Linked DNA regions of Homo sapiens. The protein of the gene in region 7 purifies or fractionates together with the protein of the main gene of each other region. This does not show direct contact. Each region holds a gene or a part of one and is shown on either strand. Other genes may lie near its edges. The genes, in order: KCNJ12, ABCC10, MTARC1, ZMPSTE24, LTN1, SLC12A6 and KCNMB3.

The links.
Region 1: the proteins of KCNMB3 (region 7) and KCNJ12 purify together in Homo sapiens (affinity purification with mass spectrometry; one large-scale study listed by BioGRID and IntAct). This does not show direct contact.
Region 2: the proteins of KCNMB3 (region 7) and ABCC10 purify together in Homo sapiens (affinity purification with mass spectrometry; one large-scale study listed by BioGRID and IntAct). This does not show direct contact.
Region 3: the proteins of KCNMB3 (region 7) and MTARC1 purify together in Homo sapiens (affinity purification with mass spectrometry; one large-scale study listed by BioGRID and IntAct). This does not show direct contact.
Region 4: the proteins of KCNMB3 (region 7) and ZMPSTE24 purify together in Homo sapiens (affinity purification with mass spectrometry; one large-scale study listed by BioGRID and IntAct). This does not show direct contact.
Region 5: the proteins of KCNMB3 (region 7) and LTN1 purify together in Homo sapiens (affinity purification with mass spectrometry; one large-scale study listed by BioGRID and IntAct). This does not show direct contact.
Region 6: the proteins of KCNMB3 (region 7) and SLC12A6 purify together in Homo sapiens (affinity purification with mass spectrometry; one large-scale study listed by BioGRID and IntAct). This does not show direct contact.

The regions. Positions count from the first base shown.
Region 1 is NC_000017.11:21,382,359-21,386,493, forward strand, and holds part of KCNJ12 (ATP-sensitive inward rectifier potassium channel 12), read left to right. Parts: intron 1-4,135. UniProt on the Homo sapiens protein: Inward rectifying potassium channel that probably participates in controlling the resting membrane potential in electrically excitable cells. Probably participates in establishing action potential waveform and excitability of neuronal and muscle tissues.
Region 2 is NC_000006.12:43,437,194-43,441,328, forward strand, and holds part of ABCC10 (ATP-binding cassette sub-family C member 10), read left to right. Parts: intron 1-740; coding exon 741-820; intron 821-826; exon of another isoform or gene 827-1,195; coding exon of another isoform or gene 1,196-1,197; intron 1,198-1,430; coding exon 1,431-1,602; intron 1,603-4,135. UniProt on the Homo sapiens protein: ATP-dependent transporter of the ATP-binding cassette (ABC) family that actively extrudes physiological compounds, and xenobiotics from cells.
Region 3 is NC_000001.11:220,807,166-220,811,300, forward strand, and holds part of MTARC1 (mitochondrial amidoxime-reducing component 1 precursor), read left to right. Parts: intron 1-4,135. UniProt on the Homo sapiens protein: Catalyzes the reduction of N-oxygenated molecules, acting as a counterpart of cytochrome P450 and flavin-containing monooxygenases in metabolic cycles.
Region 4 is NC_000001.11:40,267,885-40,272,019, forward strand, and holds part of ZMPSTE24 (CAAX prenyl protease 1 homolog), read left to right. Parts: intron 1-534; coding exon 535-651; intron 652-2,090; coding exon 2,091-2,243; intron 2,244-4,009; coding exon 4,010-4,135. UniProt on the Homo sapiens protein: Transmembrane metalloprotease whose catalytic activity is critical for processing lamin A/LMNA on the inner nuclear membrane and clearing clogged translocons on the endoplasmic reticulum.
Region 5 is NC_000021.9:28,930,499-28,934,250, reverse strand, and holds part of LTN1 (E3 ubiquitin-protein ligase listerin), read left to right. Parts: intron 1-1,586; coding exon 1,587-1,781; intron 1,782-2,928; coding exon 2,929-3,096; intron 3,097-3,740; coding exon 3,741-3,752.
Region 6 is NC_000015.10:34,253,647-34,257,781, reverse strand, and holds part of SLC12A6 (solute carrier family 12 member 6), read left to right. Parts: coding exon 1-140; intron 141-1,498; coding exon 1,499-1,553; intron 1,554-2,389; coding exon 2,390-2,520; intron 2,521-3,192; coding exon 3,193-3,434; intron 3,435-4,135.
Region 7 is NC_000003.12:179,247,921-179,252,802, reverse strand, and holds the start of KCNMB3 (calcium-activated potassium channel subunit beta-3), read left to right. Parts: upstream 1-1,688; 5' UTR 1,689-1,699; coding exon of another isoform or gene 1,700-1,767; 5' UTR 1,768-1,812; coding exon 1,813-2,060; intron 2,061-4,882. UniProt on the Homo sapiens protein: Regulatory subunit of the calcium activated potassium KCNMA1 (maxiK) channel. Modulates the calcium sensitivity and gating kinetics of KCNMA1, thereby contributing to KCNMA1 channel diversity.

The DNA.
Region 1 (4,135 bases), on a different chromosome or scaffold from region 7:
CATGTTTGGAGGGCGGCTGAGGGGATGGGGCTGGCAGGGAGGGGACAGTGTCTCTGTTTCTTGCCCAGTTAAGCATTCCAGACTCCCCACGGTCATTGAGTTTCATGTCAATGCATTTCACCTCTCCTTTCCAGTCTTTTTTTTGGAACATGACACCCACGTTATAAAATGTTTAAAAATGTTTATGATTTGCAATGATCAACTCCAGCGGCTTTAGTGGCCAGCAGTGATCACCTCTGCAACTATAGAGACTGGCATGCTTTCTGCTTGCCTGAGCACTGCCCGTCCCTCCTCCCCTGGATGTCCATGTTGCCTCAGAAAAGACAGGGCTGGTGGCCCCTTTTGTGGGGAGCAGATAGGTTCTGGTCCTGGGCCTCAGCCAGGTGTGCCCGGTTGGCCAGGTGTGCAGCCAGGTGTGCCAGGATGGGAGATTGTCTCCTGGGGCTCACCTGGGGAGTGGGGGCAGAAAAGGAAACCAGGTAACATGAGGACTGGCAGCAGGGATACTTCTCAGCCCTCCCTGCCTCCACCCCAAGGGTGTACAGGAGGGTGCGACGTGACACCTCCACTGTGGGAGCGGGCAGCCTGAGGCCAGAGAGGGTCCCCACAGCCGGAGGTCACACAGTTCCCGGAGGAAGGCTGGGGCGCAGCCTTGAGGCCACAGACCCTCTGTCCCTGATGCTTCCAGGCAGCTTTTGGGGACTTGGCAGGGGAGGGGCCGGGGAGAAGGGAGCATGTGGAGACTGAGATGTGTATGATAGAGAGGATGAAAGGCCGGGGGCAGGAGAGGTCAAGGGGGATGGAGTGGCCTGGTGGCCGGAGGTGTGCCCTTGCCCCTGCCCGCCCCGCTTGCTCCAGCTGCAGCCGGGCCCGAGCTGGCGGCTCCAGGCCTGCAATTCTCCAGCACTTAAAGCAAAAATAAATCGCTGCCAGCAGCTGGCGTTCTGTGTGGCAGCAGCCGAGCCAACCCCGCCCCGACCCTCTGCCTCGGGGCTCCTGGTTCCGGGCCAAGCCAGGCTTCCATTCAGGGCTGGGGGGCGCCGAGGCCAGAGAGGGTCCAGGGGAGCTTGGCGTGGCCGGAGGGGGCGGGTCCTGGCATGATCACAGGGAGGGCAGAGGCAGATGGAGACCTGGGGCTTCCAGGGGTGCTGGGATCTGGGGCAGGTTGGGGATGCTCAAAAGTGGGGCTTCTGACAGTCTTGGGTCTTGTGGAAATAGGGCCTGGGAGGGGCAAACTCAGGGGTCACAGCCACCTGTTTGGCCCTGGGGATCCCCAATCACAAGCCACCCCCAGCCTGTCCCCTGGATGTCCCTTTCTTTCCATCCCCTCCTTTCCCTTCTCAGAGAATCCTAGAGGTCCTAGAGGTCAGGTATTTGCGTGGTGAGCTTTGAGGATGCAGGATTTTGGCCTCATTCCTGAGCTCAGCAGGTGGCTGGGGATGTGGCCTGCACAAGACCCCTGCCCTGGGGGGCTGACATCTCAGTGGGTGGGGCAGGATGAAATAGACAAAAAACACATGAGCCATCACGGGCATTGTCATATTTTGTTGAATATAACAGTTTTTAATTATAAGAGTGTTATGTGCTCACAGTAAAGTGATAAACAGTTGTAAGGGGAAAAGTGAATTTCTCCTCCTCACCCCCTGCCTCCCCCACCCCCAGAGTTTCTTGTCCTTGGGGTGACCATCATTAGAGAGGCTTCTGGGTTTCTCAGTGCTTATGCAGACGTGAATAAGTAAATGGAGGCATAGAAACGTGCTAATATCTAAGTTGCCTTTTTTTAAATTCGTATGGGACCATTGCATACATGTCATGGCGTCCCCTGCACTATGCGCACTGCTGTGTGGTGCCCGTGCCCACTGGACCCAGGGGGTCTCATCCTGTCGTCCTGGGCATGGATTGAGGGCTGAGTCTTGGGACTGTAGGATCTTTGTGGCATCTGAATGCACAGAGCCACCGAAGTCCGTGAGTCATGGGTTCTTTTCGTTGTCATTTTAGCTGCGTTGAGACAGAGATCCTGGATTGCAGGATTTGGTTTAAGTACCAGGAGAGGTACCGAGTCCTCGCCTGGGTGCCTCCTTCGTCACATCCCTCTGGGAGTTGGGATAATCCAGATCCCCTGCCTCCATCCCCAGAGCTCAGAGGGTCTGGGGGGCTTCAGAGTCGCAGCCTGGGGCTTTGGGACCTCTGGGTGAACCTGGCTCCCACTCAGGGCAGAGTAGACACGCTGGAGCTCGGAGGGGAGGCGCTCATTGCTGCTCCCACTGGGGTCCTTCTTCCTTTAGCCTCTCTTCTTCCCTTAGCCCTGACCTCCTAGAAACAGGATCACTTGTTCCCTCACTGTCTTCAGGCTGGGGCAGGCCTCTGTGTGGGGAATGTCACTTTGTTTTTTTTTTTGTTGTTGTTTGTTTGTTTTTTTTTTTTTTTGTTTTGAGACGGAGTCTCACTCTGTCGCCCAGGCTGGAGTGCAATGGCGCGATCTCAGCTCACTGCAATCTCCGCCTCCCGGGTTCACGCCATTCTCCTGCCTCAGCCTCCCGAGTAGCTGGGACTATAGGCACCCACCACCGCGCCCGGCTAATTTTTTTTTGTATTTTTAGTAGAGACGGGGTTTCACCGTGTTAGCCAGGATGGTCTCGATCTCCTGACCTCGTGATCCGCCCGCCTCAGCCTCCCAAAGTGCTGGGATTACAGGCGTGAGCCACCGTGCCCGACCCAGGAATGTCACTTTGACCTGTCTCCAAGCTTCCGCATCTCAGTGCCTGTCCCATCCTTGTCATTCCTTGGAACCTGGCCTGAGATGCATCAGGGTGGTCCCACCTTACTCCACCAGGGCCCCTTATTAGAAAGGATCTGCTACACTGATTGGGAGAGTGACTAGTCTGTGGTCACTCTCAGTATCTGTCTCAGTGTCTGTGGGGATCAGATATACCTGGTGCCCTTCTTTTATGAGCCTCACTTTCCATGTTTGTGAAATGGGGAGGCAGTCCATTCTCGTGTCTGGGCATCTGTTCTCTCCTTCCCTCTGGGCTTGGGCACTGCAGGCAAGACAGGGCAGCTTCCTGGCCTCCTTGATCCCTATTCTGCTGTGTGGCCGGAGGCTCGGCCCTGCCATCACCCCGGCCTGCTGGGCTGCAAGCTGTCAGCAGCACCTGCCCAGTCAGAGCGGCCAGGTCCCTCCCCAGGCCCTGGGAGCCTTGAAGACCACTGGAGGCAGTGCCCCAGGAGGTAGCCGTGGAGTGGCCCCGGCCCTCCCTGGGGGTTGTGTAACAGAGGAGACCCCGCTGCCCTCCTCTTTTCCTCTGCAGGGTGGAGGCTGGCCTGGGCCCTGCCAGCACAGCCTCCAGGCCACTCATGGGTCCTGGCCTCCATCCCACGGTAGATGCCCTGACTCTGCAGCACCAGGGCTCATGACCAGGCTCTTGGTGGCCTTAGGACCAGCTGCCGCTGGGTGGGGATGCCCCAGATCAAAGGCAGGTAATAGAGAGGAGACTGGGAGGACAGTGGGTGGGGAGCAGGAACCCTGGGAGCCTCAGTGTCCTCCCCTGTGAAATGGGAACACTAGAGAAAGTGGGTTGGGCAAACCCACACGCCTACCATTGCATCTGGGGTGTGGAAGGAGCACTGGGGCAGGAGTCTGGCAGCACCACCAACCAGGTCCAGTAAAGAAAGCCGAGGCAGGGATCAGAGGGCGGCAAGCCAGTGAGACCCTGTGTTGGTTTCCTGCTGCTGCCACCATAACAGACTGGGTGGCCTAAAACAGTACAAATGCAGCATCCGTTCTGGAGGCCAGACGTCTGAAACCGGTGTCTGCAGGGCTGGTTCCTCGCGGAGCCTCTGAGGGAGAAGCCATTCTGGGGCTTTCCCCCAACTTCTGGGGCTTCTGGCGGTCCTGGCATTCCTTGGCTTGTGGGCATCTCCAGTCTCTGCCTCTTGTCTTCACATGGTCTCCTCTCCCTGTGCTGCCTCTCCCTCTCCTCTCTCTCACTCTTTCTGTTATGAGACAGTCTCACTCTGTCAACCATGGCTCACTGCAACCTGGAACTCACAGGCTCAAGTGATCCTCCTGCCTTAATCTCCCAAGTAGCTGGGACTACAGATGTGCACCACTATGCCTGGCAAATTTTTAATTTTA
Region 2 (4,135 bases), on a different chromosome or scaffold from region 7:
GCTCGAGTTTACAAGTTACAGCCAACAAGGAGAAGCTGCCTCTGGGACCTGATCCCAAATTCCCATGGAAAGGTCTCAGAAGTGGTGCCCACTTGTAGCTGGGTCAACCCTGGCTGGCAGGGTTGGGGCATCACAGGCAGATAGAGCTTCTGAGAGCCCAGTCCCTTCTAGAGAAGGAACTAGGACTTTTTTTTTTTTATATTTTTTTGAGCAGGGAGATAGCTCCATGAACATATGACCAAAAAAAAAAAAAAAAAAAAAAAAGGTAAACAGAAAAATTTAAGCCACAGAAATAGGGATCTATGCAAAGCTCTGCTTTTTCCCCTGAGATATGGTAACTCTAGCCACAGGTCGACTTAGCCAACCCATCATCCAGGCCCTAAAGCCTGGAATTCTACCCTTCCCTCTCCCGTTCTGGAGTGCCTGTCTCAGAGTTTACCTTGGAAGTTCTTGGGTGGTTTCCTCCCATTCTCTCTGGCATGCTGCTCCCCTTCAGAGGCCCTTCACATAGACAGTGAAACTGATAGCCACTCTGAGTGGAGAAAAAAACACCCTACTTTTCTAGAGCCTGATTTGTTGATCAGCCTGTGAAGCGGAGAATTCTTTCCCTACACACTAAAGAAAGAAGAAAAGAGAAGCCTCAGTGGGAGGACTGGCAGCCCAGAGTGTCAAGAGGGAGACCACTGCCACCTCTGTCCTGTCTCCTACCAATAGCAGATGCTTGTGTGGCTTCCTTGCAGGGTATGCTGGTGGGCATCGTGGGGAAGGTCGGCTGTGGGAAGAGCTCCCTGCTGGCTGCCATCGCTGGAGAGCTCCACAGGTAACCAACCTCCTATGCACCCCTGTCCTTACTTTGTCCTTTAGCAAACACTGAGCCCCTCTTATGTGTTGGACACCTTTTGGGGGTCAGGGGTACTAAGAAGAGCAACGCATGGTCCCTTTATTGGGAGAGTTTTCAATCTGGAAAGAAGGAGGTGGCCAAGAAAGCGAATCATTGTAATCATTACACCAGAGTGTTTTAAATGCTATAATAGTCAGCAAAGGAATGGAAACATCCAGTGTCAGCTATTCTTTCAGAAATGTGGCTGTGCAGAGAAGGGATCCAGAGAGGAGCATAGGTTTGAGGGAGGACCTTGTTTTCAGATGGGAACAAGTACAATGTGGTGGCCATACTCTCCACTGAGCTCCTGAACAGATGTAAGTACAACAGCTGCTTGGCTGTAGCCAAAGAGCTATTTCTTCCCTTCTTCGCCCAGAATGGGCTTCATTAGGACCCCTTGACCTCAGGAGCTGCCATCTCAGTCATGTGACATGAAGGGGGACCCTGTGTAGAAGACAGCAGCCTGGGGAGGCTTCTAGGAGTCAAGGGCTGGGCATGGAGGGACCCAGAGGAGAGCTGGTCCTCATATTGCTCGCCTGGCTCTCTGCAGGCTGCGTGGGCATGTGGCAGTGCGGGGGCTGTCCAAGGGCTTTGGCCTGGCCACCCAGGAACCCTGGATCCAGTTTGCCACCATCCGAGACAACATCCTCTTTGGGAAGACATTTGATGCACAGCTGTACAAGGAGGTGCTAGAAGCCTGCGCCCTCAATGATGACCTCAGTGTGAGTGCCTGGCCTTGAAACCTCTTAGCTGCCTGTTTCTCCAGTGTCCCTGACACCTCAAACCAGGAGCTTTGCTTTTCTGGAAAGGGGTTGCTTCTACTCGGGCATCACTTATCTAGGAATGGCCATCGGACTGTGGTCCTCCCAGAGTGTCCAGCTGCCCCTTCTGATAGGGCCCAGTAGGGTGGTGACTGTGTGTTCTGCACAGTTGTGGGAAGAGCCCTAAGGCCTCTGGAGCTAGGGAGGGTTCCACCTGTGGGGCTTAGCTCTGCACAGCCTGGCTCCTTGTCCCCTTCTCCATACCCACTTCCCACTGGGAAGGCTTGGAAGAGTCAAAGTTTCATTTGGTTGCAGGTTACCCTAGGGAAACCTGCCAAGCTATTAGATTTCCCCTTGCCCCCAGTCCAGAGTACTATATTTATAGGAGAAGAGATTCCAGATTTCTCCCTTGACTTCCCACCCAACCCTGCTGTCCCCTTCAGAAATGTCACCACCACTACCCTACCCAGGTAAATGTGGAATGTCCCTGAAAAGGAGCACTTTTAACCTTGACCATGGGGCATTCTGTATCCAGCTGTCATTCTTTTTATTACTTTTTTAAAATTGATTAATTTTTTTTTTTTTGAGACAGGGTCTTTTTTCTGTCCCCCAGGCTGGAATGCAGTGGCGCCATCTTGGCTCACTGCAGCCTCTGCCTCCCGGGCTCAAATGATCCTCCCACCTCAGCCCCTCAAGTGGCTGGGACTACAGGAGTGAGCCACCACACCCAGCTAATTTTCGTTTTGTTTTGTTTTGTTTTGTGTTTTTGAGACGGAGTCTCACTGTGTTGCCAGGCTGGAGTGCAGTGGCACAATCTCGGCTCACTGCAACCTCCGCCTCCTGGATTCAAGCGATTCTCCTGCCTCAGCCTCTCGAGTAGCTGGGACTACAGCTGCGTGCCACCATGCCCAGCTAATTTTTGTATTTCTAGTAGAAACAGGGTTTCACCATGTTGGCCAGAATGGTCTCCATCTCCTGACCTTGTGATCTGCCCACCTTGGCCTCCCAAGGTGCTGGGATTACAGGCGTGAGCCACCGCGCCTGGCCTACTACCCTGTCTTTTTAACAGTCAAGGTAGTAAGATATCTTGGGCAGATTTTATGTAAAAGCTTTTATAGGTTTTTACTTTTTCGTGTGTGTGAGACAGAGTCTTGCTCTGTCGCTCAGGCTGGAGTGCAGTGGAATGATCTCGGCTTACTGCAACCTTTGCCGCTCGGGTTCAAGTAATTCTCTTGCCTCAGCCTCCTGAGTAGCTGGGACTACAGGTGTAAGCTGCCACGCCTGCCTAATTTTTGTATTTTTAGTAGAGATGGGGTTTCACCATGTTGCCCAGGCTGGTCTCGAACTGTTGGGCTCAAGTGATCCGCCCGCCTTGGCCTCCCAAAGTGCTGGGATTACAGGCGTGAGCCACTGTGCCCGGCCCAGCTTTCGTAGGTTTTTAGAGAAGGAATGTACTACCTCTAAGGCTTCTTGTGGCCTCAGGAATGGGCTACTAAGCAAAGGGATTCCCTTCCTCACGCAGAGGAAGCACCCGTGATCCACTAGATGGTGAGTCCCCTGAGCTAAAAGCTTTGTTGTTCATCTCTTTCCTTAGTGCCTACAACAGTACCTAGGACCTAGCAGACTTGGGAAAGCAATGAATGATTGGCCAGGCGTGGTGGCTCATGCCTGTAATCCTAGCATTTTGGGAGGCCAAGGAGGGTGGATCGCTTGAGGTCAGGAGTTCAAGACCACCCAGGGCAGCCAGGCTTAACAGTGGTGGCTCACGCCTGTAATCCCAGCACTTTGGAAGTCCAAGGTGGGCAGATCATGAGGTCAGGAGTTCGAGACCAGCCTGGCCAACATGGTGAAACCCCATCTCTACTAAAAATACAAAAAATAGCTGGGCGTGGTCGTGGGCACCTGTAATCCCAGCTACTCGGGAGGCTGAGGCAGGAGAATCTAGCTTGAACCCAGGAGGCGGAGGTTTCAGTGAGCCAAGATCGCGCCATTGTACTCCAGCCTGTGCAACAGAGTGAGACTCCGTCTCAAAAAAAAAAAAATACCAGACCACCCAGGGCAATATGGTAAAATCTCTTCTCTACAAAAAAAAAAAACAAACAAACAAAAAAAACAAAAATTAGCTGGGTGTCATGGCTCACACCTGTAGTCCTAGCTACTCTGGAGGCTGAGGCAGGAGAATTGCATGAACCCGAGAGGCGGAGGTTGCAGTGAGCTGAGATCATGCCACTGCACTCCAGCCTGGGCGACAGAGCAAGACTCTGTCTCACACACACAAAAAAGTAAAAACCTATAAAAGCTTTTACATCAAATCTGCCCAAGATACCTTACTACCTTGCCTGTTAAAAAGACAGGGTAATAGGCCAGGCACGGTGGCTCACGCCTATAATCCCAGCACTTTGGGAGGCCAAGGTGGGTGGATCACAAGGTCAGGAGATCGAGACCATCCTGGCTAACATGGTGAAACCCCGTCTCTACTAAAAATGCAAAAATT
Region 3 (4,135 bases), on a different chromosome or scaffold from region 7:
ACTCTAGGTAATAATATTCAAGCTGAACTGTTCAGAGTTGAAATGTACTGGTGTCTGCAACTTACTTGGAAATGCAAAAAGACAATACAGTGGATTGATGGATAGATACATGTGTGATAAAGAAAACATAGTCAAGGGCAGGCACGATGGCTCATGCCTGTAATCCCAGCACTTTGGGAGGCTGAGGCTGGTGGATAACTTGAGGTCAGGAGTTCGAGACCAGCCTGGCCAACATAGTGAAACTCTGTTTCTACTAAAAATACAAAACTTAGCTGGGCATGGTGGTGGTCACTTGTATTTGCAGCTACTCGGGTGGCTGAGGTAGGAGAATCCTTTGAATCCGAGAGGTGGAGGTTGTAGTGAGCTGAGATTGTGCCACTGCACTCCAATTTGGATGACAGAGTGAGACTCTGTCTCACAAAAACAAACAAACAAACAAAAAAACAAATATATATAGTCAAGTGTTAAGCTCAGAATTCAAGCAGCGGGTAAATGGGTGTTTGCTGTAAAATTATTTCACCATTTGCCTGCTTGAGAATTTTCATAGTAAAATTTTGGGGGGAAATGTCACTATATGTGACAGAACATTGATGAGAGGACCAGGGTTATAGCTATTCTTTGAAATGCGCTCACTCACCATCAGAACAAACCAGAATTCAGTCTTCCTGTTTTCCATGGCCACAGAGGAGCTACTAGGGGCAGAAAGCAGGGTGGGCCAGCGGGAAGATCCCGGGCTGGGAGTCAGGAGACCTGGATGTGCAGCACACCGACTGCTGTGCTCCTACCCCTGCCCGCACTCAGACCCTGAGTGTTCTTCCCTATAAAATAAAGGAGGCAGGACAGAAATAGATGATTCTGTGTAAATCAGCCAAGTGGTTTGGGGAATTGGCTGTCATCCTTTTTTGTCCATCTTGTTCTTTCTCTTCCCCCTGTGTGTTGCTCGGTGTGGGGCATCCTTCCCTCTGGATTTAGAAGGTTTATGCTCTTGCAGAAACAGCCTCCGCAAAGCACTTCACGTGTTTGGGCTTGTTCTCTGCATCTTCAGTGCCCCCCTTCCTCCATTGGGAGCCTGTGTTTATAGAAGGAGGATAATTGACCCTAAACACAGAGTGAGGGTGGGAAGGCGGGGGGCGCAAGGAGCCAGCACACCCCCCTGATCTTCCGCAGGCTTTGTGAAGCCCAACAATCTGGCCCTAATTGCTTCTAATACCCCAGGAGACAGTGCGGCCAGCCTAGGTGTCTTCTCCTATCTCTTACTGAGATTTAAATTGCCATGGATGTGTAATTTATGTTCTTCCCAAGACAGGTGGTCATAAATCGGGAAGAGAAAGGCCTGGCCACATCCCATAAATCATGGGAAGGGAAGCAAACAGTGGTGTCCACAGCCTCTCTGCTATTGGGCAGGTTGCTCAGAGCTACACCACTTTCTGCCTCTGGGCACTCATGGTGCCCATGGCTGGGGTTGCTTCTGGAATGCCAGCGCTCAGCTGGGAGACCTCTGTGCCTGACCAGCCCTGCCTCCTGATGTTAGTCACCCACAGGCAGAGCCCGCGGTGGTACAGCAGTGGGAGGAAAAGAAATACAGAGGCATAGGGAAGCCTTTGTCTGTAAAATGCTCACAGCGGGAGGCACAGTGGAGGCATGTCTGCTAACAGGAAGATATGAAAATGGAATTTTTCTTTTCTTTCTTAAGGGAAAGTGACGTACACACTGATCCCCATGGTTGAAGGAATGGCTGGAGTCTGCCGTTGTTGCTTCCATGACATTTTGCCCCTAATGGAAAGAATATAGCACAGTTACTGCATGGGTACTCAAAAAAAAAAACGTTTTGCTGGATGCACGAATACTGTGACAGTAATGACATTTGCCAGCAGCCACTTGTGTCAGGCTGTGCTCTGCTGAGCTAAACACAGAATATATAGCAGTGGTAACTCCATGGGAGGAGGCAGACTCTCCACCCTAGTCTGGCTCTGTCACCTCCTAATTGTGTGACATTGGCAAGTCGCTTAGGCTCTTCAAGTCACAGTTTCTTTATTGGTATAAACTGGACTTGTAATACCTCTTCTGGTAGACTGGAATAAGGCAAGATATAGGATTTTTATAGATGATAAAATACTGTACACAGTGACCATGTAAGCTGCGGTCATTGAGAGTCACTGTTTATAAACTTGACACCTTCTGAGAGGAGGAGAAGCCTGACCACACTTCTTCCCATACTCAGAGGCTGCTTTAAATGAAACCTAACACGAACTTGCCCAGCGGCCAGCCTCTGGAGGTTCAGTGTGGCACCTCTCCCAGGAACGTTCACGATGCCGTCTAATTCTTCAATTTAATTTAATTTAATTTAATTTATTTATTTATTGAGACAGAGTCTTACTCTGTCACCCAGGCTGGAGCACAGTGGAGCAATCTCAGCTCTCTGCAACCTCCGCCTCCTGGGTTCAAGCAATCCTCATGCCTCAGTCTCCCAAGTAGCTGGGATTACAGGCATGCGCCTCTACGCCTGGCTAATTTTTGTATTTTTAGTAGAGACAGGGTTTCACCATGTTGACCAGTCTGGTCTCAAAGTCCTGACCTCAGGTGACGTGTCTGCCTTGGCTTCCCAAAGTATTGGGATTAACAATGCTGTTTAATTCTTAACCTGGCCATAGAGATAGGCAGTCATGAGGCCTCAGGAATGGCTTCTGCCGCTGGTGACTTATGGTCCCATGAACGCCAGTGGTGGGATCGGGCAGTGACCAGATACTCTGCCTGGAGTCATGGCCTGGACGTTGACCAGTGAATGCGTAAACCAGGCAGGGTAAACAAGGATCAGCCCTCTGTGGTGCACAGCACTTTAACGGTAACAAACTGTTTCCATTTACATTGCACCTTGTAAATAATAGAGACCTCGGTTTTAAGCTAAATAAAGTGTCTTGGGCTTCCTGCTCATTAGAATAGTTATGTTTCATGTTCATTTAAGGAGAAAGTGCACTAAGGAAGATTTTAAATGAGTTTTAATTTATTAATACCAACAGGAATACATATATGAAAAGTCACATATTTAAAAAATCGTAGAAGACCCATGTATGAAAGAATACTGTTTCAGAGTGTTGAACTTAGTGTGCGCACGAATTCATAGACTGCTTGCAATACCTCTTAGTGCCACAAGGCGCCGCTAGTGACCTCGTTGAGTCTTCCCACAGCCTGGAGGCGGGCTTCCGCAGCAGTAGCAAGAGGAGGTGGTGCAGGAGGCGGTGAGAGCCCGCAGCAAAACCAGGCAGCTGTAGGAAAGCCCTGGCAGGCCGGCCCACCGAGAACCCCTTTTCCACTCCCATAGCTCTTCCCGCTTCTACTCCTAGACAGCGGAGTGGACCGCCACCTGTGAGCCGGTGACCACACCTGCACTTTCACAAAGCAGCTCCCTCACCCCGACCTGTGCAGTTTAGGGAGGCTGTGCCGAGAGGGGCAGCCGCTCTTTACGGTCCTCTGCTCCTCATTACCTGGTGGGGGAGTGAGTGTGTCTGTGCTTGGTTGGCAGGAAGGGATAGGTGAAAAATGTAAGTGGCTAGAAATTGGTGTAGGTGACTAAATTGTGAGACCCCTCGGTTCTTCTCAGGCCTGTGGGTGTACTCAGGAGGATGTCGACGACCAGGGTTACATCCTGGGTGGGAAGAGTCCACTAGACTCTGAAGTCAGCCAGGCCTGGGCTCTGGCCCCAGCTGGATCCTTTAGATCTGTGATCTCAGGCAAGTCTGTTACTCCCCCTGAGACTTAACTGTAAAATGAAGAAAAGGCAAATTCCCACATAAGCAGGTTGTAAGGATTAAAAAAGAGAACATGTGTAAAGTTCCTTATAAACTATCCATGTGTGATGCGCAGAACTCCAACTCTCAATTTCTCCCCAAGATAATGAGAGTCTGGACTCTTAGACTGCAGAGCTTGGCAGCAACGGAAACACCCATACAAGCAGCTGATGTGTCCCCTGTTCCTGAAGAGGTCACCCTCTGACAGATAGATCTCAGAATGTCATGAATGTTGCATGCTGAAAGAGGAGAGCCAGGCTAGGAGAGATGCCTGGTTTGTCAGGTCCAAGGGCATTGCAGAAACCTGATTACAGAGAGAGGAAATACTCTTGGCAAGGCAGGGAAGCCTG
Region 4 (4,135 bases), on a different chromosome or scaffold from region 7:
TTAGCATGTATTTGTCATGGTATTTCTTTTAGCTTGGCAGGCTTTCCACTAAAGTTAATTTTTTGGCTTCTGCCAATGTTAAGATTTGCCTCTCTGTTTGCATAGTCCTTGGTTACCCATGCTGTATTGGCATAACATTAGTTACAATAACAAATCCCAGAATATCACAGGCTTATTTGCAATGGTTTATTTCTCAATCACGTAATAGTCCAGTGTGAGTATTTTTAGTTATCAGGTGACTTTCTTCCATGTGGTAAGCCAAGAATCCAGGCTCTTTATCTTAGGGATTTGTCTGTATGATTTAAGGTACCTTTCATATAGTGCCTGTGTAATAAAAAAGGAATTGTTTTGTTTCTCATTTACTTCTCTCAAAAGTAAACTTTTTTGAAGGCAGGGATGATATTTCAGACCTTATGTTATCCATAGAATCAAGCATATTGCTTGGGATGTAGTAAGTAAGTGCTCAGCAAATACTTGTTGATTTGTTTGCCAGTAGTTCATAAAAACTGGATTTTTGTTTTTTCTTTTGTTTAGATCACTCAGTCCCTGGTGTTTCTGCTGTTGGCTACACTTTTCAGTGCATTGACTGGTTTGCCATGGAGTCTTTATAATACTTTTGTGATAGAAGAAAAACATGGCTTCAATCAACAGGTATAATAAAGAATACAAATGTTCTCTTTTAAATGTGAAAAACTTCTGTGCTTTTGTCCTGTACTGTTTATAATTTAAACATAATTTACTATTTCAGAGTATGAATTGAGAAAAAAGGGAACTACAGATATGGTAAAGATCATAGCTGAAAGTCTTGGGGGCCGCGGTGGCTCTGGCCAGTTGCCCTGGCACTCGGGGAGGCAAGGCTACATGTTCGAGGCCAACCTGGTCAACACTGATTTTAAAAAAAAAATACTTAAGGCCAGGCCCAGTGGCTCATGCCTGTAATCCCAGCACTTTGGGAGGCTGAGGCGGGTGGATCCCAAGGTCAGGAGATCGAGGCCATCCTGGCTAACACCGTGAAACCCGTCTCTACTGAAAATACAAAAAATTAGCCGGGCTTGGTGGTGGGCGCCTGTAGTCCCAGCTACTCGAGAGGCTGAGGCAGGAGAATGGCGTGAACCCGGGAGGCAGAGCTTGCAGTGAGCTGAGATCTCGCCACTGCACTCCAGCCTGGGTGACAGCAAGACTCCGTCTCAAAAAAAAAAAAAAAAAAAAAAAAGAAAGAAAAAAAGTCTTGACTGGGTACAGTGGCTCACGCCTGTAATCCCAACACTTTGGGAGGCTAAGGCGGGAGGATCACTTGAGTTCAGGAGTTCAAGACCAGCTTGGATAGTATAGTGAGACTTCATCTCTACAAAAAAATTCTAAAAGCCAGTTGTGGTGGCATGCACCTGAAGTCCCAGCTACTTGGGAGGCTAAAGCAGGAGGATTGCTTGAGCCCAGGAGGTTGAGGCTACGGTGAGCCATCATTGTGCCACTGTACTCCAACCTGGGCAACAGAGCCAGACCTGTCTCTTAAAAAAAAAAAAGAAATTTATGTTATAAACTCCTTTAGCACTAATATCTATTGTTTTTCAGCTACTAATCATTTGTTTGTTTGCGACAGGGTCTCGTTCTGTCACCTAGGCTGGAGTGCAGTGGCAGGATCATGGCTCACTGTAGCCACGACCTTCCAGATTCAAGCAATCCTCCCACCTCAGCCTGCCTAGTATCTGGGACTATAGATGAATTATACTACACTGGGTTAATTTTTTTATTATTATTTTTAGTAGTGACAGGGTCTCACTATGTTGCCCAGGCTGGCCTGGAACTACTGGGCTCAAGCAATCCTCCCATCTAGGCCTTCCAAAGTGCTGGAATTACAGTTGTGAGCCACTGCACTCGTCCTCAGTTAATAAGGTTTAAATGAATTTTCAGCTGTAAAATGCAAGACATTTACCCATTGTCTTAAGCTGCCTAATGTCATATAATATAGTTTCACTGCATGTTAATTTTAAAAATTGCTTTAATAATGTATCCTTTGTATTTATTTATCAGTTATTTTAAAAAGCAGAACCAGTTTCTCAGTTTCTTGTGGTAATGTTTTCTTTTTGCAGACTTTGGGGTTCTTCATGAAAGATGCAATCAAGAAATTTGTTGTGACTCAGTGTATTTTGTTGCCTGTGTCTTCACTTCTACTTTACATTATTAAAATTGGGGGTGACTATTTTTTTATTTATGCCTGGCTGTTCACATTAGTTGTGTCTCTGGTGAGTAAAATCTTTATTTCGTTTTCTTTTGCAAAAGTTCCTTGGTGAGATTACTGTAATCTTCATTGGCATGTAAACAGTTCTTAAGAAGCAGCTGAAATATAAATAGGTGCTTATATACATTTCCCCCTTGGTTTCTGCTTTTGATTGTAGACACAGGAGTATTGACTGACCATAAATTTCCTTCTCCTTATGCTAACTCTTCAGGTCATAGAAACTAGTTGTTAGTCACTTTTAATGATTCAGTTGTCAGGCAGTTTTGGGTTGTGCATTTGCGAGTTGCCACCAGAATGACTAAGTGTGATAATTTAATGACTCCTGACTGACCTCCACTGCCTAAAATCATGGTTATTTTGAAGAGAAATGAGATTTAAGAGGGACAAGAGAAAGAAAGCATATACTTAACTGGCTTTCTTCTGCTTCCCTTCCCTTGCCTTTCCCTTCCACGTTAGACACTCTCTCCCTTCTTTGCCCCATCTGCTTCCCCTTCCCCTTCTATCTTTTACCCATTCTTCTTCCTTTCCTTCTCCTGTCTTCCCTTTTCTCCCCAACTGCCACCTATTCCTGCCTCTCTTCTCCTTTCCTTTTCCCTCTCACTCTTTTCCCCCTGATTTTTCCCTCCCTCACATCTCCTATTCCTCTTCTCTTTCCATACTCTCAAGTGCTTCACAACACAAACACTACAACGCAGTCAAAATGGTCTGTTCAGGGCCAGGCACAGTGGCTTATGCCTGTAATCCTGGCACTTTGGGAAGCCAAGGTGGGAGGATTGCTTAAGCCCAAGAGTTTAAGACCAGCCTGGGTAACACAGTGAGACTCTGTCTCTACAAATAATAATTTTTAAAAAACCCAAATGAAAAAACCCAAAGTGGTCTGTTCAGTGCACCCAGAAATTATCATCTATCAGCTCTTCAGCTCCACTGATGAGGTTTATTTTATTTTAGAGATAGGGCCTCCCTGTGTTGCCCAGGCTGGAGTACAGTGGCTATTTCACAGGCATGATCATAGTGCACTACAGCTTTGAGCTCCTGGGCTCAAGCAGTCCTCCTGCCTTGGCCTCCTGAGTAGCTGGGACTACAGGTGTGTGACACCATGCCCAAGCTGAGGTTTATTTTAGTCTGAATTACATAATGCTCATTGTTTCATTTTCCATTGATGGGATCAAGATCAGAAAATGGGCGCTAGTTGGATTTACAGGTATCTATTGTATGGCAAATTAAAGTAAGATGAAAAAGAGCAGAGAAAATGCTCTAAAAATGCTTAAGGAAGTGCTATTTCAACCACATTGTACAATTATGAACTACAGGTAATTAATTTTAGCTGATAAGCCAACCAAGTAACAGCACACAATCAAGTTCTACTAATTCTTTTTTGGGAAAGACTTCAGGTCTATTGTGATTACGCTAAAAGGTAGAACTGCGTGTTATGATTGACTCATGAAGCATCAGAAATCCCCAAGATAGTTTTGAAAGGACTATACTTATTACCACCTAGAGATTTTAATCACTGTTAGTAGCATTATCCTTTAAAATAAAATTCATAAGTTTACTCTGTTATCAGACTACTCATTTCAATTTAATTCATCAGACAGATATTATGCTCTTACTATCTGGTACTATTTGGGCCTGGGAATACCAGAGCAAGTAAGTTCCTTGTTCTCAAGTTTGAGGTCAACATAGTTGTTTTAATATAATTTAATCTGTATAATAAAGAATGTTTTTTCTTTAAGAACATGTTCATATGTTATTCTGACATTTACTTTTCAGGTTCTTGTCACAATCTATGCTGATTATATTGCCCCTTTATTTGACAAATTCACACCTCTGCCTGAGGGAAAGCTTAAAGAAGAAATTGAAGTAATGGCAAAGAGTATTGACTTTCCTTTGACGAAG
Region 5 (3,752 bases), on a different chromosome or scaffold from region 7:
TGTGTCCCAGTCACCAAGGATATGAACAGTTTAGTAGGACCAGATTCTTGTCCTGTAATAACATACAGTCTAATAAAGGGAAAAGAGCGAGACTGATAATTATTTTTGCATTGGAAAGTAGCATATTAAGAGAAAGAGTGCCTTGTGATCTGAGTGGGAAAGATTCATCTGGCTGAGGGGATTAAGTGAGATTTTATGGAAGAAAATCACTTGGAGGTGGGCAGGATTTTGTTATGGGGAAAATGAAGGGAATGGCATTTACTATAAAGAAAATAGGCCGAGTGTGGTGGCTCACGCCTGTAATCCCAACACTTTGGGAGGCCGAGGCGGGCAGACCACCTGAGCTCGGGAGCTCAAGACCAGCCTGGCCAACATGGAGAAACCCCATCTCTACTAAAAATACAAAATTAGCCAGGTGTGGTGGCACGTGCCTGTAATCCCAGCTACTCGGGAGGCTGAGGTAGGAGAATTTTTTGAACCCGGGAGGCGGAGGTTGTGGTGAGCCGAGATCACGCCATTGCACTCCAGCCTGGGCAACAAGAGTGAAACTCCATCTCAAAAAAAAAAAAAAAAGAGAGAGAGAGAGAGAATAGTATTGCAAAAGCAAAAAGCATAGAAGTGAGAATGTCATTTCAGTCGTTGCCCAGGAAATGATAAATAATGCAGTACTCCAACCCAAATAATGCGTAGGAGTCCCAAGGGTGAATAGAATCAACGGTGAATAAGAGGTATGTTGGGAAGGGCCTCAAATAACGGTCTAAAGTGGTACAATTCAGCCACTGAACATTTTTCATTCAGGCAGTAGCATGATCAGAGTTAAAATCTTTGAAATTGCTCTGACCACAATCTATAGCATGATCTGTTGGCAAACAGTTTGGATTCAAATGAATGGTAGAGGAGACTATTGGGGTAGACATGAGCAAAGGACTAGGGCATGGGTGAGGCAGTAACAGTGGGAATATAAAAGTAGGGATGTGAGAGATTTTGTGCTAGTGATTTAGTTAATATCTAGGATGAGGTAGAAGCAGAAATTTAAAATGAGCTATCATGATTTTTTAGCCTGGAAGTAGGAAATTCAGAAGATGAAGTTTGTAAAGGATAATAATGTGTGCGTTTTATGTTGAGTTTGCAATGTTGGTTTGAAAACCAAACAAATAACTATAAATGTTCTGACAGTTGATAGTTGGCTCCAAAGCTCAGGAGGATAATATGGTAGAGGAAGAATTGTTAGATGTAGAAGTGACATTCGATACTCTGGGTGTGGAAGAGAAGCATAATAACCCATTCTGTCACTTATCTATTCAAGGTTTATTGAACTATTATGTGACAAGCCTAATATAATAAAACCTTTTTTATGAGCAATTAATTTCTTTTAAAACAAACTTTGAATATCACAAAATCACTGTAAAAATATACCAGGCAGGTATTTAAACGTATTTCTTAATTATCTCATGTCAGATAAGTGAATGTATTTACCTGCACTGTCCTTGAATGAAGTCTTTAGCTTTTAATAGTCAACCTATCAAAATGTTTTCTGGTTGAAAGACAGAAATTTGGCAAACAAAATATCCTTTGTTGTATTGCAGGTTAAAGCTCGAGCTACTACTCGAGAGGTAATGGCTACTTATACTATTGAGGACATAGTTATTGAACTTATAATACAACTGCCTTCAAATTATCCACTGGGTTCAATAATAGTAGAAAGTGGGAAAAGAGTAGGAGTAGCTGTTCAGCAGTGGCGGAACTGGATGCTGCAGTTAAGCACTTACCTCACCCATCAGGTAAGTTTCTGTTTACACATTTGGCTTTACAAACTTGGAAAAGATGATCTATTTAAAAGGGCATTTAAACATAAAATATATCTTTTCTGCTTAAGATAAAAGTAGATATTAAACTTCCTTGGATAAATACAGAGATATGCCTAAATGGATTAAACCTGCCTTTCTGTTTTAATTGTTAAGGTTCTGTAATTTATTTTCTGGTGTTTGAGAGGGATTGACTTTATTTCATTAACACTGTAGAAGGTGTATTAACAAAATTGTTTCGGAGAGGATGTTTTGAAAGATACTGGACAGATGAATGCCTTCTGAGCTACTTTCACTTTTATTCTTACATTTCAACTCCTCTTTGGTTAGAGAAGTCCCAGGACCCTCAAAGACCTTTGACCTCTAAACACATTTTAAATCTTCAGTTCTGTGTGCACATTGTGTATCTCAGGCATTCTACAATAAAGAAAAACTTTTTTTTTTTAAGAGTTTTTGCTCTTGTTGCCCAGGCTGAAGTGCAATGGCATGATCTCAGCTCACTGCAACCTCTGCCTCCCAGTTCAAGCGATTCTGCTGCCTCAGCTTCCAGAGTAGCTGGGATTACAGGCACCCGCCACCACACCTGGCTAATTGTTTGTATTTTTAGTAGAGATGGGGTTTCACTATGTTGGCCATGGTGGTCAACGAACTCCTGACCTCAAGTGATCTACCCACCTTAGCCTCCCAAAGTGCTGGGATTACAGGCTTGAGCTACCGCTCCCGGCCAAGAAAAACTATTTTAAAACAAATATGCTCACCAATATTGTAGAGCTGGAACAAATCATTTGAGATAATTTCATCATTTTCAGTTAAACATTAGAACTAACCTAAATGATTTAATTATTAAGAGAGTTTTATCAAGCAACAAGCTTAGACTATAACACTTTAAGTATTGGTCCAGAAGCCTTTAAAGTATGTCTTTAATGGAGAAAAATTACATCTGGTTCCAAAAACTTGGGAGGTTATTTTAAAAACCAACATTCATAAGTTGGGAGACATGAACATAGCCAAGCAGATTCTCTTCTTTCAGAATTGTAATTCAACTTTAAAATTTGTGAAATTGAATAAAAATAAAATTGGTGGTTATCAGTGTGTAGTGACTTATTTTTCTTCTTGTTAACAGAATGGAAGTATTATGGAAGGCTTAGCTTTATGGAAAAATAACGTAGACAAACGTTTTGAGGGTGTTGAAGATTGCATGATCTGTTTCTCAGTCATTCACGGTTTCAACTATTCCCTTCCCAAAAAAGCCTGTAGAACATGCAAGAAAAAATTCCATTCAGCCTGCTTGGTAAGTCTAAAGAGAAATTAACTTACTTATATTTTATGTATTTTATACACATAAACACACACACACACACACACACACACACACACACCTACACAATGTCTAACTTCGGAAGAGAAAATGTGTGTTAAACTTAATTGTAGCTAATGGGAGATATATTAAAAAGTGATTTTTTAAAATCTGCCAAAGATAATTAGCAGTTTACTGAGACTGGTAGAATCAAGGCCCTCTAATAAATGGGTGTTTCCAGTGACCTTTTACCACTCAAGAAGTAGAAGGTCTTCTGAGATCTAGACCATGAAGGAGAGTACAGGAGTTGGTACTGGAAGCCATCTGGCATCAGAGCCCTGTGCTCTTTTTAAACATACTGAAAAAGAAGTTGCCATTTGTTCATTTGTTTCACAGGAGATTTCTTATATCTTAGTGATTGTGTGCATGAGCCTAAGTAGGAAGAACTTAGTGTAGCCATCGGAAGTAATACTCAATTTGTGTTAATTTTGGAGATAACAGAAAGAGCAAAAATTTTATTGTTCTTCCCTTTTCACTTTATCATTTGAAGGTTACTATAGATGTATGTGTACTTTATGATGTATGTTAGAGGAGAACTTTAAAAGTTCTTTTAGTATTTAAAACCTTTTCTTTTTCAGTACAAATGGTTT
Region 6 (4,135 bases), on a different chromosome or scaffold from region 7:
AAATGGGTACCTTCATGGGTGTCTACCTCCCATGTCTACAAAATATTTTTGGAGTGATCCTTTTTTTACGCCTTACATGGGTGGTGGGCACAGCTGGAGTTCTTCAGGCTTTTGCAATTGTCCTTATCTGCTGCTGCTGTGTAAGTACTGCACTGGCTCCTAGAGATCACCTGAACGTTGCAAGTTCTCAAGAGCAGATGCACATGACCTCTTTGGGAATAAAACAAAGAATACTTAGGGAAGGACTCATGATCTCAACAGAAGAAATTATTCTGATATTAAAATCTAAAGGATTTTCAGTTATTCAGTGCCTGTTAGTCACTGCTTGCTATCTATTATATGATGTACTAGAAATTACAAAGCAAGACTTCAACTGAAAATGGAAGATAAAGTTCCTGTCTTCAGAGAATTCAGAATCCAAACTATTTGAGCTTGATAGCACCAAAGTTGTGACAGAAAATGTGTTAGAAAATGTGATGTATCACTCCAGTATATATTGAGAAACAAGACAGGTTATTGCGGATGTGAGGGGTATTTGGTTTTTTTATTTGGTTTTGAAGTTTCTTCCCTTATCCCTTCCTTAGAAATTTAGATGTTCTTTCCAGGTCTTCTCTCTACTGAGAACATTTTTATCTTCCTTTAATTTAAACTTCTCATTATGTATCCCAGACACACCTATGAATTTTATAGTTTTCTACTGTCCTTTTTTATCACTATGACCTTTATACCCTACCTGTATATTATCCCCAGCTGATGAGCAAAACAGGTTAAGCAGGCACAGTTCATATTTTTAATAACTTAAAATGTTCATGGTACCACCTTTTTTTAGTCTCAGGCTTAAAACCTCAAGGCTGTGTTTGGCTTCTTAATTGCTTTTCACATCTAATCAGCTACCAACGCTAATCTATTCTCTGAAATCTTTTACACTCAGCCCTTTTTATTCACACTACCACCACTATAGTTTTTACCTCTCACTGAACTACTATGGTAGCCTGCTAACCAATCACTCGGCCTCCAGCTACTCCTATCTGCAGCGCATTCTATACTGTGCTACCGGGTAATATTTTTAAAATGCGGTTCCTGTGTGCTCAGAAGCCTTCAGTGATTCCCTTTCTTACTGAACATTGTTCTTGATATTGTATTTAGTCTTTAGTCAGGTTCTAACCTATTTTCTGAGTTATTTCTCTAGTTCTTCCTTTTGAGTATACTATGCTCTATTTCCTGTGTAACTAGGAAATCCAGAGTGAGATTAGCAGTTCTTAATAGCACCTGACCTACTGATGTGGGAGCATTTTGACAGAATCCTCCAGATATTAGTGGTATGACTAGCGCAATGAATTGGACCATATCATCTTATTTCCATACCATTAGGTATGACTGTCCATAAAAGTAGGTAGAGTTAAATGTTTGCCAAGTGCTCTTGGAACACAAATGGAGAAGTAGTATAGAAATGTCATCTTTACACAGTAACAATCCTCTCCTTTCCTTTTCTCTGCAGACAATGTTGACTGCTATCTCCATGAGTGCCATTGCCACTAATGGAGTGGTGCCAGGTTAGTAGGTCAAGGTTGTATTTCAGGATTTATCAGTGTTGACTCTGTGTTTATGCTATAAAGCTAGAGGTGCAAACTTCTGAAGAATAGAATACTATTTGGTCTGTTCTGTGCTACAACAGAGTAATGGTCTATAGGACGTAGACATAATACTACTTGACTTTAAGATGCCGTCTTTAAAATCTCTTTATTTTTTAAACTAGAATGCATTAATTTCAGTCACATTCTTAGCTTTTATTAGTTGGAATATATATTTTTTTATAGACAGAGTCTCACTCTGTCACCCAGGCTGGAGTGCAGTGACACGATCATAGCTCACACAGCCTCCAACTCCTAGGCTCAAGCTGCTTTCCCACTTCAGCCTCCTGAGTAGCTGGAACTAGAGGTGTACACCACTATGCCTGGCTATTTTTTTTTTTTTACAGAGGTGACATTTTACTATGTTACCCAGTTTGGTCTCAAACTCCTGGCCTCAAGCAATCCTCTCGCCTCATCCTCCCAAAGTGCTACCATTAGAGGCGTGAACCTCCACACCCAGCCAGAATATATTTTATTGGGCTGTCTCATGTCATAGTAAATATTCTCTAATTTTTTTCTAAGTAAATGCTGGCAAACTATTGCTTCATATGGCTCATTACATTAGTTGTGCAGTATATCCCACAATAACACTTTCACCTTTTACTTCCCACTAGCACATCTTTTTATCACATTGAGGGTTTGCAGAAGCCTGAAACATTTAACCTTTATGTATATATTTTTTCTTATTTCTGTTTTATTCATATTCCTCTTGCTAATACACACTCTTTCTTCTATTCACCTTCTGTTTTGTCTTTTAGCTGGGGGCTCATACTTTATGATTTCCCGGGCACTGGGCCCAGAGTTTGGTGGGGCTGTTGGCCTCTGCTTTTATCTTGGTACCACATTTGCAGCAGCCATGTACATCCTTGGTGCCATTGAAATCTTTCTGGTAAGTAATGACTTCATTGTGGTCTATAATATAGAAGAAATATTGATTTAGGTTTATTCTTTGCTATGAAAGCTTCTGAGAGATCAGCTGTGGGAATAAATCAGGTGATTGACTGCCAACGTCAGTTGGCCTCTTACATGAATATGAGGTGGAAAGGTTGAAATTCTGTTTGCCTGCCTGTCCCTTCCTTTCTACCTGATTGCCACCACTCTGCCACCTCATCCAAGAGGTTCAAGTCCAATGGGGAAAAAGTAAAATAAAGTTTATCTTTTTTGATATCTTCATCCCTATGAAATAAAATGCTTCTCATATCTCTCTTCACTGAGACATATTGTTTACTATTTAAAGTAGTGATAGTAGAGTCAGGGTTAAAGATCATCATTATAATTACTTTATATAACCCTATGAATAAAATTAATAATTTGTTCCTTTCCTTTCTTTCCATTTGGAAATGTAGTTATTCAGAACAGCATGTAGACCAAAAAAAAAAAAAAAATCCATGACATCCCATTTCTGAAGGCATTTCAGATCCTATTAGAAACTAGGCTAATTCCCCAGTCATTTTCTCTCTCAGCTTTGCTTTCTTTTGTGAAAGTAAATGCAAACGAATACAGCCTTTTTACTTAATTATTTTGAAATAACCTAATTTTCTCCTTTATTTTTACCTAACAGGTCTATATCGTCCCCCGAGCTGCCATCTTTCACAGTGATGACGCACTCAAGGAATCAGCAGCCATGCTAAATAACATGCGTGTCTACGGCACAGCTTTCTTGGTCCTTATGGTATTAGTGGTATTTATCGGCGTACGCTATGTGAACAAGTTTGCCTCACTTTTCCTGGCCTGTGTCATTGTGTCCATCTTGGCCATCTATGCTGGAGCCATCAAGTCTTCTTTTGCTCCTCCACACTTCCCGTACGTGTCTGTCTCTCTGCCTAGCCATCCTTATTGGGTAGTAATTGAAAATATCTGGTGGTGTGATAATTTTAAGTCAGAATTTCATAGAGTCTCTCTGAGATTTTCCCTCTCAGATAAGCCCAGTTAGACTTCCTTCCTCATCTAGGCAGGAAGCCTACCAGCAAACTATGTCCCGTTCATCCTCTTTCTTATGTCCTAAGCATAGAACTAGTAGCTGTAACCATCATTTAGGTTCAGATATTAGATTTTTTTCTCCCTGATAATTGTACATAATCTTTTTTTATTATACACATTTTGAACTATTCATAAAGGGCTTTGCAGACAGTGTAGTTATTGCCAGCAACCTTTATAAGGCCCACCTTGGCCTCCCGACGTGCTGGGATTACAGGCGTGAGCCACTGCGCCCAGCCTAGGTCAGGGCTTTTATCCATTACCCAAATAATGTACTTTGTACCCATTAAGTACTCTCTCATCATTCACCACCTCCTTCAACTCCCTAGTGCGAATACTTTAAAGTATGTTTTTTGAAGTAGTAATGGATTTGTGCACATCTGTGACTCACAGGCTCACTTTTCCCTTTGACTAGTGGCATAGGGACTAGCTGGCACTCAGTGTTATTTGTAGTCTTGTTACAGAATTATCTTGAAGAGTCATCTGGATTATCTGAGGATCAAACTCATCGGTTCTATGTTGATTTA
Region 7 (4,882 bases):
CCGAGATTGCCCCACTGCACTCCAGCCTGGGTGACAGAGGGAGACTCCATCTCAAAAAAAAAAAAAAAAAAGTACAGGTTCAAATTTCATTAAATTTTTTTTCCATGCCCCTTCTCTGGTGGTAGGATGATAGGGGATGAGTAAAATATCAAAGACAACTAAAAATTCCTAAACTAGATCCTCGGGTCCCAAAGAAGTGTTAACCATGGAGTGCCCCACCTTCTGAGGTTGGTGCTTCCTGGCACAGGCTCTTGGAACATTCTGGATTGTCTGACATTCCTTTTACTCGCTTTAGAACCTAAAGATGTTGCTGGGGGAAAAGGGAGCTAGGGAGAGGGAAGGGGAAGGATGTGGGATAAGGCATAAACTATGCTTGTGGGAAAAAAACAACCAGTAATTTCCTTGATGGGGTTTTTGCTTGACTTTAAAATGCAGTAAGCTTTTAGGAAGCTTGATGGAGCCTGTGTTTCTACCATTAGTGCTGCATTTGTTTGGCTTAAGATTTCATTAAGCTTCTTAAAATGGAGATACTTCTGGAACTCAAATGGCTACTGAGCAGGGAATGGCAAATCAGTGACACTGTAGGAAGTGGAGGGATTTTGGCAAACTAGAGAACACACCTTCCACAGGGGCAGCCACTGCTCTGCTGGGCCCGCTGTTCATCTGCAGGGACGTGCATCTTGGGATTATTTCCAAAGTCAGAACTCAGCATTTTTATGAGAAATGTCATGATTTTTAAGGTCTTAACAAGTTATCCCACATTAAAAAAATAATAATAAACCAGGCCGGGTGCAGTGGCTCACGCCTGTAATCCCAACATTTTGGGAGGCTGAGGTGGGTGGATCATGAGGTCAGGCGTTCGAGACCATTATGGCCAACATGGTGAAACACTGTCTCTACTTAAAATACAAAAATTAGCTGGGCATGGTGGCCGGCGCCTGTAATCCCAGCTACTAGGGAGGCTGAGGCAGGAGAATCGCTTGAACCTGGGAGGCGGAGGAGGTTGCAGTGAACTGAGATCGTACCCAGCCTGGGCAACAGTGCGAGGTTCCGTCTCAAAAAAAACCAAAAAACACAAAAACAAAAAACGACAGAGAAGGCCAAACAAAACACATCTGTGGGCTGGATGCCGCCATGCCCACCGGTTTGCGACCTTTGTGTTGGACTCTTCTGTTCACCAGACACCCTGCCCTGCGAGAATGTATCTCATCCTTTGCTGGAGCAGGTTTGCAGGCACAGTGGAGAGAGGAGAGAAGAAATGAAGGGACACTTATGCAGAACCATGAGTGGCCAGAGAGGAGGAGAAGGAGGGTGAGAGGAGCAAAGAAGCCATGACAACTTCATAATTCTGAGTGGACTGGGCAGTGGCCAGAAATTCTGGTGGTGGATATGCTGCCTTTCCAACAGGTGAATATGAAAGAATAAGTCAAACCCTGTTCAGGACGCTGTTAATTCCAAATGTGAACTTTTTGAGTCATTCTTTCCATGTGGAATTCAAAGGAGAATGTAAACAAATTTTCAGGAGGGACGTGCAATATCCCTGAAAGATAACAAAGTTCGTAACACTTATTTACATACAACATTCTCTAGTTATTGATTAAACAGATCTCTACAGACTTGCATGAGGCAACATTTCTTAGGCTTGTTTGCTACAATATCTTTAAAAATACTTGATTACACATCACTTTAGCTTATTTAGATGGACTTTTCACCAAGCTCTGAACTGGGATTTCATTTTGTTGCATTCATCCTGCTCACGAGACACAGGTAGGCAGCAAATGAGATTATCCCTCCAGTCCCCATGGATTGGAAATGTTCCCCCTTCTTTATGAGCTCACTGCAGTATCTCCTTCTCCCTTTCCCCAAAGGACAGCCTTTCCTGCCTCAGGGAAGAAGAGAGAGACAGACTACAGTGATGGAGACCCACTAGATGTGCACAAGAGGCTGCCATCCAGTGCTGGAGAGGACCGAGCCGTGATGCTGGGGTTTGCCATGATGGGCTTCTCAGTCCTAATGTTCTTCTTGCTCGGAACAACCATTCTAAAGCCTTTTATGCTCAGGTAAGAAACAGAGGAAGGAAATCTAGAGTTTCCAATTCAGATAAGATCCAGGCACAGCGGTAAAGGAGGAGAGGCTGGCTTTGGTTTCTCAATCTGTGACTCTCTGCCATGGTCTAGAAAAAGAAAAATACAATTCCTCTTCCGCTGTCAGTGCTGGGGGCAGCTGGGTGTGGAGGAAGAGGTGGCGAGAAGGTCAAAGATATTTCCCTGCACTGCCTCCTCCCATCTCATAATCTATATATACCTCCAAACACGTAATCCACAAATTATAGTTTCTTCATTTAGGTCATAAATCCTCCCCTTAAAATGTTGGTATTCCAAGAGAGAGTTAAACCTTGTATGTGAGCACAATAAAAGTTTTTTGAGTCTGAATTTTTTGAGTTTGACAGTGTCTACCTGGCACATAGTAGTTGCTCAATACATATTAGTTTCCTTCCTTTTAATTAGGTTCTTTATTCAATATATGTAGTGATACAGTTGACCTTTGAACAACATGGGTTTGAACTTCGGGAATCCACTTATAAATGGATTTTCTTCTGTGCCTGCCACCCCTGAGACAGTAAGATCAATCCCTCCTCTTTCTCCTCCTCCTCAGCCTACTCAACATGAAGAGGACAGGGAGAGGACCTTTATGATGATCCACTTCCATTTAGTAAATAGTAAACATGTTTTCTCTTCCTTATGATTTTTTTTCTTCAATTTTTGTTTTAAGTTCCGGGGTACATGTACAGAATGTGCAGGTTTGTTACAAAGGTAAACGTGTGCCATGGTGGTTTGCAGCACAGATCAACCCATCACCTGGGTATTAAGCCCAGCATGCATTAGCTATTCTTCCTGATGCTCTCCCTCCCCCTACTCCACTGAGAGGCCCCAGTGTGTGTTGCTCCCCTCTAGGTGTCCATGTGTTCTCATCATTCAGCTCCCACTTTTAAGTGAGAACATTCAGTGTTTGGTTCTCTGTTTCTGCATTAGTTTGCTGAGGATAATGGCTTCCAGCTTCATTTCATCTATGTCCCCGCAAATGACATGATCTTGTTCTTCCTTATGATTTTCTTTCCTTTTCTTTTTTCTGAGACGGAGTCTTGCTCTGTCGCCAGGCTGGAGTGCAGTGGCACGATCTTGGCTCACTGCAACCTCTGCCTCCCGAATTCAAGCAGTTCTCCTGCCTCAGCCTCCTGAGTAGCTGGGATTACAGGCGCCTGCCACCATGCCCACTAATTTTTGTATTTTTAGTAGAGATGGGGTTTCACCATGTTGGCCAGGCTGGTCTTGAACTCCTGACCTTTGAACTCCTGACCCTGTGATCTGCCCGCCTTGGCCTCCCAAAGTGCTGGGATTACAGGCGTGAGCCACCATGCCTGGCCATGATTTTCTTAATAACATTTTCTTTTCTCTAGCTTATTTATTTATTTTTTTAAGAGAAGGGGTTGGGCCAGGCGCGGTGGCTCACGCCTGTAATCCCAGCACTTTGGGAGGCCGAGATGGGTGGATCACGAGGTCAGGAGATCGAGACCATCCTGGCTAACATGCTGAAACCCCGTCTCTACTAAAAATACAAAAAAATTAGCTGGGCACGGTGGCGGGCACCTGTAGTCCCAGCTACTCAGGAGGCTGAGGCAGGAGAATGGTGTGAACCCAGGAGGTGGAGCTTGCAGTGAGCCGAGATTGCGCCATTGCACTCCAGCCTGGGTGACTGAGCGAGACTCTGTCTCAAAAAAAAAAAAAAAAAAAAAAAGAGACGGGGTCTTGCTCTGTGACACTGGAGTGCAGTGGTGTGATCACAGCTCATTGCAGTCTTGAACTCCTGGGCTCAAGCAGTCCTCCCACCTCAGCTTCCTGAGTCAGTGGGATTACAGGCATAAGCTACTGTGCCTGGCTATTCTAGCTTATTTTATTGTAAGAATTCAGTATATAATACATATAAACATACAAAATATGTCTTAATCAACTGTTTATTGGTAAGGCTTCCAGTCAACAGTAGGCTATTAGTAGTTAAGTTTTTTTTTTTTTTTTTTGAAGCAGGGTGTCACTCTGTCACCCAGGCTGAAGTGCAGTGGTTCAATCATGGCTCACTGCAGCTTCGACCTCCTGGGCTCAGGCGATCCTCCTGCCTCAGCCTCCCAAGTAGCTGGGACCACAGGTGTGTGCCACCATACTTGGCTAATTTTTAAATTGTTGGTAGAGATGGGATCCCCCTATGTTGCCCAGGCTGGTCGTGAACTCCTAAGCTCAAGTCATCCTTCTACCTTGGTCTCCCAAAGTGCTGGGATTACAGGCATGAGCCACCATGCCTGACCAGTAGTTAAATTTTTGAGGAGTCAAAAGTTATATGCAAATTTTCGACTGCAGGTTTGGGGGTGTGGTGTTGGCATCCCTAACCCCTGAATTGTTCAAGGGTCAACTTTAGTTGCTACTTATTAAGTATATGCTGTATGCTCAATACATACTATATTTTATCCTACTTAAACCTACAGCAGCCCATGATGGAAGTGTTATTTTAGTTTTCATTTTATAAATGAGAAAGCTGAGGCTCAGAAAGGCCAAGTAACTTGCCCAAGTTCACATAGCCGGTAAATAATATGCCTGTCATTCTGACGTAAGACTTGCTTCTTAATACCTAAATGATGTTTGCTGAAATGAGGGGAATGGGGGTTCTGATTAGGGAAGGGGAGGGGCTATTTAATTTTGTAGGATGGCCCACACAACATGTGGTACTCTGGGGCCAGGTCAGTTCAGGGTAAAAGGAAGGCAAGGGGTGCTTTTTGGACATTGCTTTATTTTTGGACAGCCCTTTTTTTTTTGGACAGCCAAAGAGCAACAGG